Homo sapiens: one gene and its partners. The protein of the gene in region 4 purifies or fractionates together with the protein of the main gene of each other region. This does not show direct contact. Each region holds a gene or a part of one and is shown on either strand. Other genes may lie near its edges.

Region 1 (3,674 bases), on a different chromosome or scaffold from region 4:
ATCCCAGTTCAAAGAAACAAAAAAAAGAGTGGAAACTATTCTATCATAACTACCCAAGGACTACTAAAAGGAAAAATTGTGTTACCTTTTTTAAATTCCCTGTTAAGTCCCTTCCGTAATTTTTATGTTCTTGTGAGGAAAAAAGTAAAACATGTTTAATTTTATTTGACTTTATGACATTGCTTTTCAACAAGCAAATGTTAAATGTGTTAAGCCTTGTAGTACTAGTGTTGTAACTTTCCAAGTAAAGGTGTCCCTAAAGACCACTTCCTATCTGGTTTTTCCCAGTAAATGAGGCAAGCAATTCTAAGATCTTCCACAAAACATCTAGCCAACTAAAATGGAGAGATGAATCATTCTGCCTATACAAACAAGCTAGCTATTAGAGGGTGGTTGGAGTATGCTACTCATAAGATTTCAGGGTGTTTTCTAACTGAAATCTCACTGTTCTCAGTATGCAAAACCTGAAATCAGATGCCTATGTAAGGAAAGTGCTATTCACCCAGTAAACCCAAAAAAAGCAAATGGATAATGCTGGCCATTTTGCCTTTCTGACATTTCCTTGGGAATCTGCAAGAACCTCCCCTTTCCCCTCCCACAATAAGACCATTTAAGTGTGTGCTAAACAACTACGGAATACTAAATAAAAAGTTTGGCCAAAACCAACCATGAAGCTGCAAAGGTGCTTGCTCTTACTCTTTCAAATTTTTGCAACTCTAATGTCTCACTTTTAAAGGAACAGCTTGATTGCAAAGGAGAAAATAGATAAGCAATGAATTTATCTCCAACTTCCTAAAGGCTTATGACTTCTAAAAAGTGAATCTATCAGCATTCCACATCAGATTTAAAGCATCAAATGCCTGTGAAACAGCAAAGATGGTTGAAGATTGTGCTCATTATGTTTGTGGAGTGCTGATTGATTCACAGTAGATAACGCTGGCAGTAAGAGAAATCAAATGCTAAGAGTTGTTGAAGCAGAAGGCGGCTGATTGTTGGTAAGTCAGTGCAGTTGCATAAGCAGTGCTGTCAGAATTGGTTTGGTGCAGGCAATAGATTTTGCCTTCAAGGGTTCCTGTGGATCTCAGGAAGGCATCAGTGTTGATTAACACTCATAACTAGGGAGTGAGTGGTAGTTACTTAAGTAATTGACCAAATGGAAAAGGGGAAGTAATTAAGGAAATTGGTAAGTGGAGGTAGTCAGGAGGTTCTCGTGGTCCTTTACACAGATTTTACAGCTTTGGGTTTCATTTTGTTTAGCTAAAGTCATGGGGACAACTCTTCAATTTAGAACTTAAGATGAATTATAAAAATGATGGATATAAGTGGTAGCTCTATCTGGTGAAGTGTCTTGTCAGTAAGTGAAACATTTTTTTGTGGTGGCTTATCCACAAACAGTTTAGTTGTAGAATAAAACTTATGAGTGACATCTGGAAAGTAACAACCATGCTAAGATGGCAAACACACTGGAAACAATTGGGCCACTTGGCTTTCTTTTGCTGTATTGTTTTATAAGCCTGCTTTACCTCCCCGTCTTGGAAACAAGTTTTAGTTTATTGCTTTGGAGACTAGAGCCAATAGTGTAATGTTCTCAAAGGAAACAGACTTGAGTTGTTGGATTAGAGGAACTAACTCAACTTCTAATTTTTTTTGTTGTAATTATGGCACTGTCATGTTTTAACATTTGCAACTAGGGATAGTAAGTACAACATTTTTAACTCTCATTTGGCAGACTACTACTAATCACAGACCACAAGGGTAATGACCAAATTTATGTGGTTGTTACACTTCCATAGTTGTCTTAGCCGAATCCTTCCATATTCTTATGATTACTTGGGTTAAAGCTTCTGTGAGGACCTTTTGGCTCTTAAGATATCCTAAATATTTAAAATATTTAGATATCCTAAATATAGGATATAGAGTTTGTACCAAATATGAATGAATATTGTTCAAAGCAAGGAGTATGTTAAAATGACCAGACACCTGTTTGATAAATAGTTTACTGAACTAGCAGACGTGTGGAAAAAGAATCAGATCTTGATTCTTCTGGGTTTATACTGGTTGTAAAACAGAATGATATTAGAAAATGTTTTCCTTGTTTAAGTGGTAGTTGAACATAGAACTTGGGTATTATAGATCACTTTTCACTTTTTGGAATGTTTTGTATTGAAACTTAATACAACTTTAACATGGCAAAAAAAAAAAAAATCCAAAATCTATGAGATAATTTTGTTAAAGTTGGCTTGCTTGGGCGGGTGCTTGGTCCAGAGGGAGAAAAGAAGGCATGATTTCAGAATACTCTGGCAGCTTTTTAAATTCAGCTTTATCAAGTTACAGTAAACTGTATCTGTTTAGAATTACAACTCAATGGTTATTTTGACAGATGTATATGCCATGAAGCCACTGTCACCATCAACATGCAGAACACTTCCATCGCCCCCAAAAGATTCCTCAAGTTCCTTTGCAGTCCATCCCTCACGCTGCTGATTTGTCTTTGTCACCATATATTAGTTTGCTTTGTGGTGGTGTTTAGTATTTTATATAAATGGGATTGTGTAGCATGTACTTTTTTGTTTATGGTTTCTTTCACACACAATGACTTTGAAATTCACCAGGTTGCAGTGTATCAGTAGCTTATTCCTTTTATTGCTGAGTAGTGTCCCATTATGTGAATATGCCATTATTTGTTTTTCTACTCACCTGTTGATGGACCTTGGGATTGTTTCCAGTTTGGGGCTACTGTGAATAAAACTGTTAGGAACATTTGTGTACAAGCCACTGTGTAGACATAGGTTTTCCTTTCTCTTGGGTAAATACCTACCAGTAAAATGGTTGGGTTGCATGGCAGATTTATGTTTAATAAAGTAACTGCCAAACTGTTTGTTTTCCAAAGGGGCTATACCCTTTTATATTCCCACCAGGGTTGTATAGAGTTCCAACTGCCAACACTCAGTTTTCAGCCATTCTGATGGGAATCTAGTGGTATCTCATTGTGGTTTTATTTTCATTTCCCCGGGTGACTAATGCTGGTAAGCATCTTTTAAGGTACTTTTTGGCCAGTTGTATATTTTCTGTGAAGTGGCTGTCAAATCTTTTGCCCACTTTTAATTGGATTGTTTGTCTTATTGAGTTGTAAAAGTTCTTTATATATACTGTATTAAAGTCCTTTGTAAGACACATGTTCGTAAATACTTTTCTTTCATTATATGGCTCAGAATCTGGCAACTTTTTAAGAGATACTTGAGCCCACTGAATGATATATAGATCTTATAGTTTTTTTAAGTCAAGCCTTAATAATAATTAACATTTTTTGAGTGTTCATCTCTCAGTCCCTCTATGGCCATGAAGGTGGGAGATGTGACTCTGTTTAGTCTCAAGTAAAGAAATGCAAACTGAGATAATGGGTACAAATGGAGATGAAGCAAAGCCCTGTGATGTTCAAGTTCCTGGTTTCTGTTACCATTCAGTCTGGCTGGACCTCTGCCTTTCCCATGGTAACATGACCTTTCTAATGAATTCTCCCTTTTCATCTAAACTGTTTCAGATTGAGTTTCTCTCACATAACTAAGAGATCTGATTACTATAGCTTCGGAGCTTCTAAGGCATCTTATGCACTTGTCTCTTCCCCACTGTTCAATCTGAAGCATGTACTCTGCCCTTTAGCAAAAATCACAACT
Region 2 (3,500 bases), on a different chromosome or scaffold from region 4:
GCATAATAGGGTGACTATAGTCAATGGTAGCTTAATTGTACATTTTAAAATGGCTTAAAGAGGCCAGGCGTGGTGGCTCATGCCTGTAATCCCAGCACTTTGGGAGACCGAGGTAGGTGGATCACATGACATTAGGAGTTCAAGACCAGCCTGGCCAACATGGTGAAACCCCATCTCTACTAAAAATACAAAAATTAGCCAGACGTGGTGGCAGGCGCCTGTAATCCCAGCTACTTGGGAGGCTGAGGCAGGAGAATCACTTGAACCCAGGAGGTGGAGGTTGCAGTGAGCCGAGATCGCACCACTACACTCCATCCTGGGCAACAAGAGTAAAACTCTGTCTCAAAAAAAAAAAAATTAAAATTAAAAAATAAATAAATAAAATGGCTTAAAGAGTATAATTGAATTGTTTGTAACTCAAAGGATAAATGCTTGAGGGGATGGATACTCCATTCCCAATGATATGCTTATCTCACATTGCATGCCTGTATCAAAACATGTCATGTGCCCCATAAATATATGCACCCACTGTGTACCCACAAAAATTTTAAAAATTAAAAAAAAAGATCCTGATTCCATTGGTTTGGAGCAGAGCCTGGGCATCAGTATTTTTAAAAGCTCCCCAGATGATTATAATGTGTAGCTAAGATTGAGAACAACTGATGTCGGTATATGATCCCATAAGAGGAACATCAAAGCAAGTTTGTCATTCTGAACTGTGGTTCCTTTAGTCTTTGATCTCCTTAGACTTCAGTCATGCAAGCTCAACCAGTAGCATCACTTAAGGCTATGGGAGCCAAGGGCTCAGGTTGCTGTATAAGTGTGTAGTTGGCAGTCCTGCATTTCTCTTGTTGGCTTGCCAGACCATCACTCTTCGTCTTGTAAATAAGCTGGTTGCAAAAGAGACACACAATCACATACCCTGCTTCCTGTGACTGACAGCCAGTTAATATTATGTTAGCAGAATGAAGAGGTTGTAACCTTTCTGCTGAGGTACCCAGAATGACTTAGGATTCTAACTTAGGAGTGTTTTAATTGTGGTATCTTTTAGTTGAGTCAGCTAGACAAGGTCTTTTTGCTGCCATCTTACAGCCTTGTTTCACTCTCATGGGTTCTGCTCATCACCTGTGGTTGAAGGTTGAGCCTATATAGTTTGCTGATCTACTGAGCAGAACTCCTAGATTCTCAAGATAGTTATAGACAGAAACAAGGAAATTTGTTTTCTCATTTACGTAGTGATTATAGCTCTATTAGCAATATATCTACTATTAATTGTACTTTATAATGAAAGCAGGGAGGCTCTCTTAACCATTTAATTATGTTTGTACCATTATAGTTGAATGGGACAGCCACACCTGGGATCTAGGGCACAGCCGTACAGTCTTTATCTTCCTAGAGTAAAGCTTACATTCAAGAGTATTTATTTAATGCTGTGTACAAAGATACCATTATAAATTTTGGTTTGGGGAAAATCTAACACATCCCCAATTTATCACTAAATCTTTTGGCCAGTTCTTCAGAAATACCAGGGAGAGATAATGTGTGCATCTAAAGAGGTCATACTGAACTGTCCAAGGGCTGCCTTTCATGCAGCAGGTTCTCAGTATACCTTCATGATGTGCTACGGCTGAGTCAACAAAAATAGCAAAGCCAGCTGTAGATTACTAATTACCAGTTCAGTTAAAAATCTGCATACCGGCCGGGCGCAGTGACTCACACCTGTAATCCCAGCACTTTGGGAGGCCGAGGCAGATGGATCCCCTGAGGCCAGGAGTTTGAGACCAGCCTGGCCAACATGGTGAAACCCCGTCTCTACTAAAAATACAAAAAATTAGCTGGATGTGGTGGTGGGCACCTGTAATCCCAGCTACTCGGGAGGCTGAGGCAGGAGAATAGCTTGAACCAGGGAGGCGGAGGTTGCAGTGAGCCGAGGTCGCACCATTGCACTCCAGCCTGAGCAACAAGAGTGAGACTCTGTCTCAAAAATAATTAAAAAATCTGAATGCTAAAATTTTATTTTTTGTTTAGGATTAGTTGTGCCATGTTTGCTTATATTGATGTTACTAACTATAGAGATATTGTATTTTATTATAAACCTTTTATTTTCTCTTTATAGGTATGGGTTAGAATGTCTGTTCAGGTTTTATAGTTATGGACTGGAAAAAAAATTCAGGCGAGAAATTTTTCAGGATTTCCAAGAAGAAACCAAAAAAGACTACGAATCTGGTAACAATAACATCAGAAAACTTGTACTCTAATTGGAAATTGTAAACCTGAGTCTGTCAGTAAATAGGGAAGGAGTTCATAGTTTTTTTCTTCAGGGCAAACCATTTAAGATCTTCATGCTATTGTTGTGTTTCTTGATGAAGGATGGGGCACCAGGTAGTAAGAAGGCCTTTCCTGGGAGGTGTTGGAAAGTAACTACTCTCAAGTCTTTCTTTTATGGAGGTATATTTTGTCATTATCCCTTTGACAAACGTGGCTACTCACTGATGTTCCGTTACATGAAAATTCTATGCAACATCAGCAGGTAAGCTTGGAAAGGCAGAAATAGCACAGTGGTTAAGAGTGCAGGCTCTGGGACAGACTGCTAGGTGCAAATTCCCTTTCCACTATTTAGAAGCTATGTGATTGTGGGTAAATTGCCTACCCTTGCTAGCCTCAGTTTTCTCATCTGTAACATATATGAGAACACCCATCTTTTGGGTTGTATATGGTTCAAATTAGTTTGATGCATAATAAAGCACTTAATGCTTGTTACATAACAAATGCTCAATAAATATTAGCTGCCATTATTGGTTAATTCATTACATGTCTTATTCTCAAGATCTAGAGTAAGCATATATTGGAAGATAAATTGTTTATTGCTGATAGGATTATATTTAATGTGAATAATTTTTAAAATTTCATATAATTCATAATGTATATTATTCTTTGTTATTAGGTCAGCTGTATGGACTAGAAAAGTTTTGGGCTTATTTGAAATATTCTCAATCTAAGACACAGTCTATTGACCCAAAACTTCAGGAATACCTCTGTAGTTTTAAGAGGTTAGAAGACTTCCGTGTTGATGTAAGTTTTAAGTCATTTCCTCTATTCTTTTTATTATCCATATATTTCAGTCTCTTATCAGTGACTTTTTAAGCTTTAATTTTGTAATTTTTATTTTTTAACTTTTTAGTTTTAAAATTAAACTTTGAAATAGATATAAAAATAGTTCAGAGAATTCCCATATACTCTGTTCACTCAGATTTCGCAAATGTTAACATCTTGTATAACCACAGTGCAATTGTTAATTCAATTTAATTTTCATATGCTGCTATAATTAAACATTTTCTAGATTTATTAATTTTTACCTGATATGCTAATTTGTCACTAGCAATGTGAAAACTTTTCACTTTTTAATGATCTTTTATCCATATAATTCCTGTAACATGTGCTGATATGGATTTAGGGTACCTGCATAATAAAATTAAGGAGAGAATGTTGTGTGCATGTGT
Region 3 (4,095 bases), on a different chromosome or scaffold from region 4:
AAACAATATAAAAGAGATTTTAAAAGTTTTTAAACAGAATTTCTATAATCTGTATGTATGATTTTCATAATATTAGCATCTGGTAAAAATTTAAGATAATATATTAAGCCATATAGGTATGAAGAGATTTAAGACCAGGCCAACTTTGGATCACCTGAGTTGATAACAGATTTATAACTTAAGGAATGTAGAAGTTAAGGTTTTACAGTGCAAGTTACAATTTAGATTAACTAGTAAGTACCTGAATTATAGTCAACTAATGGAAAGAACAAAACACATAAAGCCAGTTTTTAGGCAACATTAAAAACTTCCATCATCTTAATTTAAACCATCCGAAAAACAAGCATGTCAGGATATAAATTTAAAAGAAATTCAACTATATCTGACTATTTTAAGCATTAATTCAAAATGAAATTAGGTCTTTAAATTCGTACTATAAATTTCTAAAAGTTTGATTTCTCAAAACTTGGATGAAAAATTAGAAAATTTCTGTTGGTAAAAATACTTTGGAATCTTTAGTTGTAAGAACTATTTTGAGCATATTTTCATAGAAGAAATTAAAGCTAGCAATATTACTAAAATAATAAATATGCAATAAATTCAAATAATTACCTCATTTCATTTGGTTCAAATGTAAAAATATATCTATTTATACTTATTGCTATGAACATATCAAAATAAGAAAAATGTGCAATATTAAAATTAGAAAATGTGCCTCTGTAAAATGAACTAAGCTCCATCTATTTTTCCACAAAAGAAAAAAAATGGCTTTGTATAAAAAACGTTTTATCATAAAGTTTACTAAACTAAGCACCCATCATGTGGAATATGAAATTTACTGAGGTCAATTCAGGCAGAGATCACTATCATTCTCCCACCTGCTGCAGATACTAGCTGGAAAGGTACGTTTTTCTTTCCTAGTGTCTCTGGGCCAAGGCAATGCTAAGAGGTTTGGAGCCCAAGATGCGGCCATTCATCTCAGTCATTGCTTTAGTAGCATCCTCAGGAGAGGAGAAGCAGATCAAGCCAAACCCTTTGCTCTGCCCCTCTTCCTGCATTACCTTAACTCTGCTAATTGATCCAAATGAAGAAAATTCGTTTCGTAGTTTTTCATCATCGATGGTGTCATCAAGGTTCTTAATATAGAGTTTTACCCCCTGGCACCCACGAATTCGTTCCCTTTTCAGCTGCTCAAACATTTGCTTTAACTCAGCCTGTCGCTCGACTTTCTTTTGAGCCCGGCCTACAAAAATCAGCTGCCCATTTATGTCCCTTCCATTCATTTCTTCAACAGCTTTCTTGGCAGCCTCATGGCTATCAAAACTCACAAAGCCAAAGCCTTTGGATTTCCCACTGGAATCTGTCATCACCTTAACACTCAGAGTTTTGCCATATTTGCTGAAAACGTCCTTCAATCTCTCATCATCCATGTCACCTCCAAAGTTTTTTATGTAAACATTGGTGAATTCACTGGCTTTGCTTCTGAGTTCAGCTTCACGATCTTTTCGGTTTTTGAATCTGCCAACAAACACCTTGCAGCCCTTGAGTAGTTTTCCATTCATCTCCTCAATGGCCCTGTCTGCAGCACTCTGGTTCTGAAAGTGCACAAATGCATAGCCCTTGGAGCCTTGATCATCACTCATCACCTTGGAGGAAAGGATCTTTCCAAAAGCTGAAAAATGTTCATAAAGGGTTTTGTTATCGATAGATTTGTCCAGATTCTTGATGAATACGTTCCCAATTCCAGATCTCCTCAAGTAGGCATCGCGCTGAGACCACATGAGACGGATGGATTTGCCTTTTATGATGTCAAAGTTCATTGTGTCCAGCGCCTTCTGGGCATCAGCCAGCTGCAAGAAGTTCACGTAGGCATAGCCCAGAGAGCGGCGGGTGACCTGGTCCCTGCAAATGCGGATGGACAGCACAGGCCCCACAGTGCTGAACTTCCTGAACAGCAGGTCCTCGGTGACATCTGCATGTAAGTCACCCACATACAGGGAGGCCATGCGGTACTTGGCTGCTACATTCATCTCCTTGTCCTTGCCACTGTGAGTTTGTCCCCTGGAGTTCTTTGAGCAATCCCTGTGGGGGGATACTAGGTCACAGCTTTGGCCCGGTTCAAGTGTGGAGGCCTCGGGATCACCACACAAAGGCCAAGCAATGGAGTTCAGACACGACTCCCCCAGCTCAGGCAACACCCTCATCCAAAAGTCCCCACAGCCACCAATCTGGCCCTCCTAGGACGCGGCAACAGAACTGTGAAATCGCAAAGAGAGATTATTAGGACAAGACGTTCCTTCCCCTCAGATTTGTGAGAAAACTTCAAGTGGCGGGCTGGCCCTCCATCTGAGCATTCTCCACAGACGCCCTGGTCGCTGGTTTCTGAATAAAAATAGGCCTCGCTCAGAGTGGTTTAAAGTTACAGCCGCTCAGGGAAGAACTCCACAAGCGGAGGCGTCAGAGGCCCCAGCCGTGGAGTATGGGCTGCGAGGTTCTGCCCGGCAGAGACCCGAACCTGCCAGGTACCGGGTTCTGCAGGCGCCGCCGCCGCCGAGGCGCTGCCGGCAGCGACGCGGGCCAAGGGCGTCCTGAAGACCTAGGGGGCCCCTCCGACCTCCCGACCCGCGCGGCGCCCGGAGAAAGGAGGCGTGGGGGAAGGGGAGGCTGACAGACCGACGGACTGACGGACGCGGCGAAGCGGGCGGCCAGGCGGGGGCTGGGGGCTCACCGGCGGTCGTCTGCGGGCGGGCGGGAAGCCCGGAACTCGCGCGCTGAACTTCCCGCGCACTCGCTGCCAAGTGGGATGTTTTCTTTTTAATATTTTTTTTAAGAACGTTTTTCTTCCCCCCGCCCCTATTACACGTTTCCCACCCTCCTCAGATGGCTAAGCTGAGAAGCAGGAGGCGGTGACTGGGGTGGAGAAAGGCAGCCGAGGGGAGTGGCCCCAATAAACCCACCCGCCCGCAGGGCTTTGCATGGGTCTGAGTGAAGGAGCCTTTCCAAATGTGGATCAGGGCCTGTCACTTCCTGGCTTCAAACCCTCCAGTGGCTTCCTTTGACTTTTGGATAAGGTCCAACATCCGCACCTTGTTCTATAAAGTTCTGCAGGATTCCTGAAATGTTCCAGCCTCAACTGCTGCTTAGTTCCCCTTACAAAACTCCAAGACACACTAGCGTTTTTCAGAGCCAACTTTATAAAAATGTGTTCTTCGGAAATGAGTTAAAATGCTCTTTCCAAATAGATGTTTTTTCTAAACCCCTCTGACAATTTAGGTTTCCCTCTTAGAAACTCTAACACTACCCTGTACTTGCCGGCTTTTGTCTAATTACAAAATATTGCATATTTCGTAACAATAGAAGCCATGTGCACTTTATTCTCAGGGACTTGCAGACAAGGGATGTGCAGTATTTATTGAACAAATCTTAGCCTCAGGTTAGTTTTCACATCTAGTTAAATGGAGGCGGTGGCACTTATCTTAGAGAGTATTTTACGTGTGAAATGAGTTAATAGATTTGGAAATGGATAACACAATATCAGATACATAAGTGGTTTCCAGTAACAATGATTTCATTTTCTTTAGCATTAAATAAAATTCTTTAGTATCTAATGAATCCTTAAAATTTGAATCATAATGCATCTTAGAGAGTCAATAAGTTACTGTCACGGTAGCATGACCTTGATTCTCCAAGAGTGCCAGAACCTATGAAATTAACCTGTGGTCTCAGTTGTACTTGTTTACAGAAACAAAAGCCGGGCTGGATGCCAGTAGCCACAAACAAGCCACGAGATAAAAACTCAGCTTGGCAGTGCTACTCAGACAGACCTGAATCCTCACTTCCTTATCATATTAAAATCTCTGCCCAGTGGGGAGAGATGCCCTTTGCTAGGCACATATAGTAAGTGCCCAGTGCAAAAGAAAGAACAAGACTGCACACATTCTAGTTTTCTCTGGAAAGTCCCACCTCTTTCCAGGAATTCGCATCCTTAGTCTCCACCTTCATGCTCTAAGAGACCTTAAAAATCCCCCTTCTGCACACACCTGGGGAAAAGGTGAATGGGAAGCTCACCTTCTCTACTCTTTGAACAACAAATAA
Region 4 (3,500 bases):
AGAGAAGAAAAGTGGAATTATTGGCTATATATATATATTTTAATTTTTTTGAGACGGAGTCTCACTGTCGTCTAGGCTGGAGTGCAGTGGCATGATCTTGGCTCACTGCAACCTCCGCCTCCCAGGTTCAAGTGATTCTCCTGCCTCAGCCTCCCGAGTAGCTGGGATTACAGGAGTCCACCACCACGGCCCAGCTAATTTTTCTATTTTTAGTAGAGACAAGGTTTCACCATTTCACCATGTTGGTCAGGCTGGTCTCAAACTCCTGACCTCAGGTGATCCACCCACCTGGGCCTCCCACAGTGCTGGGGTTACAGGTGTGAGCCACCAAGCCCAGCCTATATTTTTGGATTGCATTCTACAGGAAATTAAACTTTTGAATTTTTTCACCTTCATACTTCCAAGTTAATAGAATTAAACCAGAATACTCCATTCTTTCAAAGCCTCTACCCAGGCAAAGTTTTACTGTATTGCTTCTTGCTTTCAATGGACATGAGGCAGAGTCCTGGTAGGCACATTGTGTTACCTGCAAAGATGCAGAACTAAACAGTTCCATCTGTTCAATATTAAAAACAAAAGTCCTCAAACCTCAGATGGTGAGGGTAATACCTCAGTACTAGCAATAAAGCCTCAAATATGAAAAGATACCAAGAACACCACTAGCAAACAAAAGTAAGCTCTCGGCTGGGAGCAGAAGCTCATGCCTACAATCCCAGCACTTTGGCAAGCCAAGGGGGGAGATTACTTGAAGTCGGGAATTCAGGACCAGCCTGGGCAGCATAGCGAATTCTTATCTCTACAAAAAATTTTTCAAATCTGCTGGGCGTGGTGGTATATACCTGTAGTCCTAGCTACCTGGGAGGCTGAGGCGGGAAAATCACTTGAGCCCACGAGTTTGAGGCTGCAGGAGCTATGATCATGCCACTGCACTCCAGCCTGGGTGACAGACCAAGACCTAGATAATTACATTCTGCCCTACTCCTGTTTACACTAAAATCACTAAGTTAAAATGCTTTCATTCAGCCCAATAAAAATAAAGTGAAATGTGACTTTGGAGCTTGGCTAGCAAAAAAAGAAAGAAAAAATAAAGCAAAATGACAAATTACTTACTGGGAGACAGTTTTGGTAACCTCAATGACAGATAAAAGGTTTGTATCCCTAGCCTATAAAGAAATCTTTAAAATTACTCAGAAAAAGAAAAATGATAAAAAAGATAAAATTATTTTATAATTTTATAAAATTACTCAGAAAAAAACAAATAATGGAGAAATAAGGCACTTCCCACAAGAATAAAAATGGCCAATAAGCATATTAAAAAGACTCAAAAGCACTAGAAATTAAAGAAAATGTAATTAAAACAATGAGATTTTCTGCTTAAAGACGAGCAAAGATGACAAATGGAAGGGCGAAACTGGAACTCTGTCACTGTTGGTGGGAGTATACACTGAACCCATTTTCCTGCAGGATAATTTGAAAATTTCTATTAAAAACCCTAAAACTGTTTTTTTGTTATTTTCCTCCAGAAATTCTACTTCTATGAATTCCGTCCAAAAATGCTTGCTCAAGTCCATTAAAATGTATATATAAGGAAATTCACCTCTGGAGTGGCAATGATTCACTTAATATATAGCCAGCTATTAAAAATGATGATGCCAGGATATATTTACTGCCACAGAAACATGCCCAAAATATAATGTGACAAAAGACTATATTTTATGATTCTACTTTTAAAAATGTTTATATGCATAAAAAAGTATAAAAAGCAGCAAACCAGAATGTTTTGAGTGGCAGAATTAAAGGTTTTTCTTTTTTTTTCTTTTTTTTTTTTTTGAGATGGAGTCTCACTCTGTCACCTAGGCTGGAGTGCAATGGCGCGATCTTGGCTCACTGCAAGCTCCGCCTCCTGGGTTCACACCATTCTCCTGCCTCAGCCTCCCGAGTAGCTGGGACTACAGGTGCCCGCCACCACGCCTAGCTAATTTTTTTTTTTTTTTTTTTTTGTATTTTTAGTAGAGACGGGGTTTCACGGTGTTAGCCAGGATGGTCTCAATCTCCTGACCTTGTGATCCACCCACCTTGGCCTCCCAAAGTGCTGGGATTACAGGCGTGAGCCACCGCGCCCAGCCTAAGGGTTTTTCTTTATATTTTGTTAAATTATTGTAAAAAGAATGTGATTTCCTTTATAATCAGGGATAAGTGTTATTTTCATTTATTTTTACATTTCTTTTCTTTTTCTTATTTTTCTCATGTATGTACCCCATGTAGGCTAGAGAGCTTGACTCCTTGCCTCTTGAGGTGAATCAGCCCATTTTCGGGATGTGCACTACACAAAGCTGCCCCATATTCCTTTTATTTTACAAGTTCTGGAAACATTTTTGTTTTAAATTGTTTTACTCTTCTCATTTTTTAAAATATATGAAATTGAGGAAAAGACAAAGGAAAGGCTGATTCCCCACCTTCCTGGGGCTACTCTTCCAATTTTTGCTGCTATTGCTATGTATTAATATTCTCTGGGTACTAAAAAGATGGGCAGCCCCATAGAACCTTTTTTCTTATCTCGTTCTCATAATCCCACTTCATTCCTTCATTCACTTATTTTTAAAAGGGTAATGTGCGCAAATACATAGTTCAAAAATATTTAAAATATAACTATCTATAAATGTATGTGGCAAAATCCCATTCATAGTCCTATTCTCCCTCCACAGCCAAACACTTTTAATTGGTTTCTTATTATCATTTCAGAAGTTATCTCTGCAAACACACGTATATTCTTACTCTACTCTTCTCTCTCAACACAAAAAGTAGCATACCATATACACTATGCCATCCATATACCATTCCTTGTTCCTTTTTTAAAAACACACACAATATCTAGTTCTTCCACATGAGTACATAGGTCTTTCTCATTCTTCTTTACAACTACACAGTATTCCATCATTTGGATGTACCATAGTTTACTTAACCAGTTCCCTGATGGCAGGCACTGAAGTCATCCCTATCATACTAGCACAAACAATGATGCCAAGCATAACCACCTACACACACCAAATTCATTTCCGAAGGTGCCTCTCATGAGGCCTCTATTTAAATTACTGCAAGCCCACATGGTCACTAGGCTGAAATATTAGCCCCTTTTTCAGTTTTCATTATGTACAGCAGCACGTAACAAAAGATTCCCTTGGACAAAGCAAATGTACTCTTTGGGGATTTATTTCATAAAAATAAAGGGATAAACAGAACAGCTAGGATGAACCATTTCTATTTAACCATGCATATGTATGTATACAATACATGTATATGCATAGAAAGTATACAATAAACCCATCAAAGCACTAACCACTGTCTCAGTATGGTGGATCTGTGGAGTGCTTTGTAGTCCCCTGCTCCTTGCCAATCAATTATTTCTAATTTCACAACAGTGAATATGTACTATTTCTGCAATATAAAATGTTTAAAAATGTTAACTCAAATTAAGGTGGATAAATTCCTTCAGTCTGTCC

What was found.
Region 1: the proteins of PAIP2B (region 4) and RBMXL1 purify together in Homo sapiens (affinity purification with mass spectrometry; one large-scale study listed by BioGRID and IntAct). This does not show direct contact.
Region 2: the proteins of PAIP2B (region 4) and LARP1B purify together in Homo sapiens (affinity purification with mass spectrometry; one large-scale study listed by BioGRID and IntAct). This does not show direct contact.
Region 3: the proteins of PAIP2B (region 4) and PABPC4L purify together in Homo sapiens (affinity purification with mass spectrometry; one large-scale study listed by BioGRID and IntAct). This does not show direct contact.

The regions. Positions count from the first base shown.
Region 1 is NC_000001.11:88,978,956-88,982,629, reverse strand, and holds the end of RBMXL1 (RNA binding motif protein, X-linked-like-1), read left to right. Parts: 3' UTR 1-3,174; downstream 3,175-3,674.
Region 2 is NC_000004.12:128,204,312-128,207,811, forward strand, and holds part of LARP1B (la-related protein 1B), read left to right. Parts: intron 1-2,116; coding exon 2,117-2,226; intron 2,227-2,944; coding exon 2,945-3,072; intron 3,073-3,500.
Region 3 is NC_000004.12:134,198,990-134,203,084, forward strand, and holds the start of PABPC4L (polyadenylate-binding protein 4-like), read right to left. Parts: upstream 2,801-4,095; 5' UTR 2,729-2,800; exon of another isoform or gene 2,257-2,728; 5' UTR 2,205-2,256; coding exon of another isoform or gene 2,031-2,204; coding exon 918-2,030; 3' UTR 1-917. UniProt on the Homo sapiens protein: May bind RNA.
Region 4 is NC_000002.12:71,217,104-71,220,603, forward strand, and holds part of PAIP2B (polyadenylate-binding protein-interacting protein 2B), read right to left. Parts: intron 1-3,500. UniProt on the Homo sapiens protein: Inhibits translation of capped and polyadenylated mRNAs by displacing PABPC1 from the poly(A) tail.